Linked DNA regions of Homo sapiens. The protein of the gene in region 2 interacts with the protein of the main gene of each other region in a pairwise test. Each region holds a gene or a part of one and is shown on either strand. Other genes may lie near its edges. The genes, in order: SH3GLB2 and FBXO8.

Region 1 (3,634 bases), on a different chromosome or scaffold from region 2:
CGCTGGGATTACAGGCACCCGCCACCATGCCCAGCTAATTTTTTGTGTTTTTAGTAGAGACGGGGTCTCACCATGTTGGCCAGGCTGGTCTTGAACTCCTGACCTTGTGATCCGCCCGCCTTGGCCTCCCAAAGTGCTGGGATTACAGGCGTGAGCCACTGCGCCCAGCCAATTTAATTTAACTTTTTAAGAAGTTGCCAAACTGTTTTCCAAAGTAGCTGTATGATTTTTTTATTCCTGTCAGTAGTGTGTTGTTTCATTTTCAGATATTTGTGGATTTTCTGGGTTTTCTTCTATTGTTGCTTTTAACTTAATTCCACTGCGATCAGAGAATGTATGAACATGTCGTGCTATGTTAGTATTATTATTATTTTGAGATGGAGTCTCGCTCTGTCGCCCAGGCTGGAGTGCAATGGTGCCATCTGGGCTCACTGCAAGCTCCACTTCCCAGGTTCAAGGGATCCTCCACCTCAGCCTCTCAGCCTTCTGAGTAGCTGAGATTACAGGCACGCACCATCACGCACCTATAATCACACCCAGCTAATTTTTTTTTTTTTTTTTTTTGTTTGAGACGGAATCTCGCTCTGTCGCCCAGGCTGGAGTGCAGTGGCACGATCTCGGCTCACTGCAACCTCCGCCTCTCGTGTTCATGCCATTCTCCTGCCTCAGCCTCCCAAGTAGCTGGGACTACAGGCACCTGCCACCATGCCAGGCTAATTTTTTTTTTTTTCAGTGGAGACGGGATTTCACCGTGTTAGCCAGGATAGTCGATCTCCTGACCTCGTGATCCACCCACCTTGGCCTCCCAGAGTGCTGGGATTACAGGTGTGAGCCATCACACCCGGCGTATTTTTTGTATTTTTAATAGAGATGGGGGTCTCACCATGTTGGCCAGGCTGGTCTCAAACTCCTGATCTCAAGTGATCCGCCTGCCTTAGCCTCCCAAAGTGCTGGGATTACAGGCATGAGCCAGCACACCCAGCCTCATATTTTTATTGTTTTAATCCTTTTAAATTTATTGAGACTTGTTTCATGACCTAGTATATGGTCTATCTGGGGAATGTCCTAGGTTCACTTGAGAAGATGTGATATTATGCTGTTGAGGGTGCAGTGCTGTATAGGTGTCAGCGAGGCCACATCGGTTAATAGTGTTCAAGGCTTGTATGTCCTTGCTGATTTTGTCTTGTCCTATTCATTATCAAGAGTAGACTATTGAGGCTGGGCATGGTGGCTCACACCTGTAATCCCGCCACTTTGGGAGGTCAAAGTGGTTGGATCACCTGAGGTCAGGAGTTCAAGACCAGCCTGGCCAACATGGTGAAATCCTGTCTCTACTAAAAATACAAAAAAATTAGCTGGGCATGCTGGTGCGCGCCTATAGTCCCAGCTACTTGGGAGGCTGAGGCAGGAGAATTGCTGGAACCCGGGAGGCGTAGGTTGCAGCGAGCCAAGAGCGCGCCACTGCACTCCAGCCTGGGAGACAGAGTGAGACCAAAAAAAAAAAAAAAAAAAAAGAGCAGAGTATTCAAGTTTCCAACTATTACTGTTGAATTATCTTATTTCTCTCTTTGTCAGTGTTTGCCTTATGTATTTTGGAACTGTCTTAGGTCTGTATGTTTATATTTGTGCATCTTCCTGATGAATTGACTCTTTCATTATAAAATACTATTCTTTGTCTCTAGTACTATTTTGTGTTAAAGTCTATTTTGTCTGGTAGTAGTATAGCCACGTTAACTCTCTCGTGGTTACTGCATACATGGTGTACTTTTTTCAGCCCATTCATGTCTTTAAATTTAAAGTGTATCTTTGGATTTTTTTTTTTTTCTGTCACCCAGGCGGGAGTGCAGTGGTGCGATCTTGGTTCACTGCGACCTCCACCTCCCGGTTTCAAGCGATTATCCTACCTCAGCCTCCTGAGTAGCTGGGATTACAGGTGCTTGCCACCACGCCTGGCTAATTTTTGTATTTTTAGTAGAGACAGGTTTCACCAAGTTGGTTAGGCTGGTCTTGAACTCCTGACCTCATGATCCGCCTGCCTCAGCCTTCCAAAGTGCTGGGATTACAGGTGTGAGCCACCGCACCCGGCCGTATCTTTTTTTTTTTTTTTTTTTTTTTTTTTTTTTAAAGACAGTCTTGCTCTTGTTGCCCAGGCTGGAGTACAGTGGTGTGACGTTGGCTCACTGCAACCTCTGCCTCCTGGGTTCAAGCAATTCTCCTGCCTCAGTCTCCCAAGTAGCTGGAATTACAGATGCACACCACCACACCCAGCTAATTTTTGTATTTTTAGTAGAGACGAGGTTTTGCCATGTTGTCCAGGTTGGTCTCGAACTCCTGACCTCAAGTGACCCACCCACTTTAGCCTCCCAAAGTGCTAGAATTACAGGCGTGAGCCACTGCGCCCGGCCTTGCCTTCACTTTTGAAGGATTGTTTTGCTATATATAGAATTCCTGGATGAACAATTTTTTCTTTACTTTGAATATATTATCTTACTGCTGTCTGGCTTCTATTGTTTCTAATGAGAAGACAATTCATCTTATTTTAGCTCTCTTGTATGTGATGAATCAAACCATGTTTTTTCTTTTCTTTTCTTTTTTTTAAAGACAGGATCTTGCTGTGTCACCCAGACTGGAGTGCAGTGGTGCAATCATAGCTTACTACTATAGCCTCAAACTCCTGGGTTCAAATGATCCTTCCGCCTGGGCCTCCCAGAGTATTGGGATTACAGGTGTGAGCCAGCGCGCCCAGCCTCTTATTGTTTCTTCACATATTTTTTCTGCCTTATTTTCTCCTCCTCTTCTGGGACTCTTGTTAGTCATATGTTGGTTCACTTGACAGTGCCCCGTAGGTGCTGAGGCGCTGCTCATTTTTCTTATGATTTTCTATTTATTTTTTATAAAGACAAGGTTTTGCCATGTTGCCCGGGCTGGTCTTGAACAGCTGGGTTCAAGCAGTCTGCCCACCTTGGTTTTCCAAAGTGCTGAGATTACAGGTGTGAGCCACAGCATCCAGCCCAGTAGTTTTTCTTGATTAAATGCTTTTCAATTTGTTTTTTGCCTTGGTCAATTTGCAGAGTCCAGAAATGGATGTTTTTGACAATTGTGTCCAGTTTTCTTTCAATTTGTTTTATTTTCAAAGAGATAAGGTCTCCCTATGTTGCCCAGGGTGGTCTGGAACTGCCGAGCTCAAGTGATCCTCCCGTCTCGGCCTCCCAGAGTGCTAGGATTATAGGTGTGAGCCACCGCACCTGGCGTGGTGTCCAGTTTTATTGTTACTTTTTTTGGGAGGGGATTTGTTGAGCTCCTTTCTCTGACATTCTGGAAGTCTAACCCCGATCTTTATAATGGCTGCATTGTGTTCCATATTTTGGCTGTCCCATTGTTTATTTGTTAGTTCCCAGTTGATGGTGTAGTGTAGGTTGCTTCTGCTTTTTCCCAGGCAAAGCATTCTGCACTGAGCACCCCGGCCCTTGCTCTTCAGCAAGCTCTTCCTGAGCCCTCTCCTGTAGATCAGAGTAGCCTGAGCCTGACCTTCTTCCTCACGCTTCAACTCTGTTTTCTCAGGGAAGACACTGATCAAGGTGGCAGAAGCTGAAAAGCAACTGGGAGCCGCGGAGAGGGATTTTATCCACACGGC
Region 2 (4,010 bases):
TAGGTATTTCAAACAAGGTTCTGATCTTTTGTTTCCTATAAAATGGGGGAAATCATTCCTATCTATTTTACAGGGTGGCTATGAGCCTTAACTAAGAGAATGTATATAAAAGCATCTTTTAATTGGTAAAGCAGTATGTAGTTTCTGAAACAGCTATATTGTTCTGACATAATTTTGGATGTATTTTTTTTAAAGTAGCAGTTTTAGTCTAACCAAGTCTGTTACAACAGCATAAAAGCGCTTCCACTTAAAAGCAGTACAAACTATGGATTAACTACAAATAATTACACATTTATTAAAATTTATAAGAACAATAATAGTTTTCTATACTTTTTAACTTCTAGAAGATCGTTACATTTCTAAGAGATGGTATTTTTGACTACTATGTTTTGTTTCCTATTCAAAATAGTAGACTATTTCTTAAAAAGACTAAAATACAAGTTTTATTAATATTTTGTATCTAATACAAAGTCTATCTGTAAAATATTAAGCAGCTTTAATCAAACTATCTCTCTGTAACAAGTTAAACACCAAAATAAAGTAGTATTTATTAAGAAAAAGGTAACTACTGCTTATAATTTCATGGCACTAAGCACTCAAATGGCACATGCTGTGCAGACAATAAGTAATGAAGAATGGTTTATATACTATTTGGGCATATAAAATCTACACAGGGAAAGATGGCAAGAATAGAAAGGAGTCCGGATGTCTCAAAAAAGCATTCTGCTTTAAGTACTTTTGTTTGAAGCAAACCAATTCCATAAAGCTTTTACTGAGCAAACGGTGTTAAATCATTGGTATGTAATGACTGACATATGAATAGCCTCATTTAAATACACATTATAAATGGTCATTTTTCTTCAGTATTTCTTAGTTGTCTAAATAGTGGAATTTATAAGTAAATGTCCTGTCTCAGATAAAGGTTTAAAATGTGTGCTACAATAGTTATCTCTAAAATACAAATTCTAACGATAAGGAAATCCACTTATATGTTTTTATAAATTTTCAGTGCTTTTAAGTAAAAAGTAGCAACTCTATTTTTGGTTACTTCAGGTTTTAAAAATCTTTAAGGGATATCATGTGATATTATTCAATAGCATAAGAACATGGGAGAGTCTATGAGAAAATATTTTCTGAGACATTTTGAATCAAATCAGGAGCCTAGCATTTATTTCTTCACTTCCAAAAGAATAGACCACCAAAGAAGTTTAGAACAGACTGCGTAGAGAAATTTTTTAAAAAAGAAAAAAACCCTGATAACCAATCACATCCCTAAAATTTAAAGGCAACAAATGTAGAGAAATAAAGGAAGGGTAAGTCCACAAGGAGGTCTTTCTAAGGAGAAAAGGGAAATAGCTAAGTACTAAGAGGTCACAAGGTACATTGAACACATAAAAAGCCCCTACTCATTAAATTTAAAGATCTGGTCCTGCAAGAGCAGTTTTTGTTACTAAAAGGCATACCATTTGCAGGTTTTGGTTTTTTTTAATTCAAAAAGATTTACAATATTACTTTGTTCCCTGAAGGTTTTTTTCCTGTTAATTTTATTCTATAAAAAGTGTTACCAAAATGGCAACTAAATAAATGTAAAAATTAAGATGTGTTATTTAAATGCAACCAAAAATCTAAGAATTTTAGGCTTATTCAATTTCTGTGGTTTGTTTTTCAAGAAATGCTCCATTGTCCAACTATTTGAAACTTTAAAATAAATGTATCATACTTCTCACTAGCATTATTTTTAATTATATGGTTCTTACTTAATTGTATCACTATTTACTTAAAGTGGCTGTAATCAGCTGTAGTCATGGTAGCATATCCTAACCCACCTTCTCAGTATACACATACTCACCTGCCCACTAACCACAAAGGCCATTGCTATGAGTGCTATGGAATTAAAAACCAAAACAAAAGTCATAATTCTCACTGAGTTGCTTTTATACAAATAAAACAAGGTATTAAATTAAATGAATATTGAAGGCAGCCAGAAATAGGAGGAAGGTGAAAAATGAGAAAACATTTAATAGTGAAAAGAGACTGATGGAAAGAAAACATGAGTTTGACTCAGTCTCCTTCCTTAGCTAGTAGGGAGCATCAGCCAAGTCACTAAAATTTTGAGGTCTCAGTTTCCTCCCCTGTAAAATAAGGGTTTTGAAACTGGTGTTCCCTAAGGTCTTTTTTAGCTATAAAATTCCATGGTTCCAAGAGTAATTAGACAAGAAAAAAAGTAAAAGACAACCAAATTGGAAAGAAAGCAGTAAAATCCTTTGTAGTTACCCTAAAGATTCTACCAAAAACTTACAACTAATAAATCCATTCAGCAAAGTAGAAAGACATAAAGTCAAGACACAGAAATAAGTCGTATTTCTATACATTTACAATAAACAATCTGAAAAGGAAATTAAGAAAATAATACCAACTACAACAGCATCAAAAAGAATAAAATACTTAGGAATTAACCAAGTAGGTAAAAGGCTTCTGGAATGAAAGCTACAAAACACTACTGAAAGAAGTGAAAGACAAATAAATGGAAGTACATCCTGTGGTTACAGATTGGAAGACTTATTAAGATGGCAATACCACCCAAAGTGATCTATAGATTCAATGTAGCTCCTGCCAAAATTATAATGACGTTTTTTGCATTAATAGAAAAAAATTCTAAAATCCACATGGAATCTCAAGGGACCTCTAATAGTCAAACCAAACTTGAAAAAGAACAACAAAGCTGGAAGACACTTTCTGATTTCAAAACTTATTACAAAGCTACAGTAACCAAAACAGTATGGTATTGGCATAAAAAGAGACATACAGACCAATGAAATAGAACAGAGAATCCAGAAATAAACCATCACATATATGGTCAAAAGATTTTTGACTAGGTGTCAAGATCATTTAATGGGGGAAAGGACAGTCTTTTCAACAAATGGTGCTGAGAAATCATATCCACATTCAAAAGAATGAGGTTGGAACCTTACCCAACATTATCTATGAAAATTAACTCAAAATGGATCAAAGACTTAAATCTAAGACATAAAACTGTAATACTCTTAGACGAAAAAACAGGGCAACAGGGCAAAAGGCTTACAGCACTGAATTTGGCAATGATTTCCAAATGCACAAGCAACAAAAGAGGAAACAGACCAACTGAACATTATGAAAATTAAAAAAAAATTGTGCATCAAAAGACAGTATCAACAGAGTAAAAAGGCAACCCACCGAATGAGAGAAAATATTTGAAAATCATGTATCTGATAAAATCTAATATCTATAATTTACAGATAACTCCTTTAACTCAACAATAACAAAAACATGATTCAAAAATGGGTAAAGGACTTGAAAAGACATTTTTCCAGAGAAAATACACTAACGTCCAATAAGCACAGGAAAATACAGTCAACATCACTAATCATTAGGGAAATACAAATCAAAAGTACAATGAGGGACCACCTTATACCCATTAAGATAGTTACTATCGAAAAAAAAATAAGTCTTGGCAAGGATGTGGAGAAACTGGAACCCTTATGTATTGTTAATGTGAATGTAATACGTATGGTACAGCCTCTGCGGAAACAATATGGAGCTTCCTAAAAAAAAATTAAAAACAGAATTACCATGTGATCTAGCAATTCCACTTTCAGGTATATACCCTCAAGAATTCAAAGCAGGGTCTGGAAAAGATATTTGTTCACCCATGTTCATAGCAGCATTATTCACAACAGCTAAAACATGGAAGCAACCCAGGTGTCCAATAACAGATGAATGGATAAGCAAAATGTGGCTGACACATATAAGGGAATGTTATGTGACCTTAAAAAGAAGAGAAATTCTGGCATATGCTACAACAAAGATGAACCTTGAGGACATTATGCCAAGTTAAATAAGCCAGTCAAAAAAAGTCAAATACTGGATAAGCCCATTTATATGAGGTTTTGGTTCTTTACCACTTTCCAGTAATATGAATACAAACACTTCCGGTTTCCAAAACTGGAAACAAAAGGTAGAATGGTGATTGC

The links.
Region 1: the proteins of FBXO8 (region 2) and SH3GLB2 interact in a two-hybrid assay, tested with the Homo sapiens proteins (one large-scale study listed by IntAct).

Annotation. Positions count from the first base shown.
Region 1 is NC_000009.12:129,014,832-129,018,465, reverse strand, and holds part of SH3GLB2 (endophilin-B2), read left to right. Parts: intron 1-2,606; exon of another isoform or gene 2,607-2,726; intron 2,727-3,561; coding exon 3,562-3,634.
Region 2 is NC_000004.12:174,276,850-174,280,859, forward strand, and holds part of FBXO8 (F-box only protein 8), read right to left. Parts: intron 1-4,010. UniProt on the Homo sapiens protein: May promote guanine-nucleotide exchange on an ARF. Promotes the activation of ARF through replacement of GDP with GTP.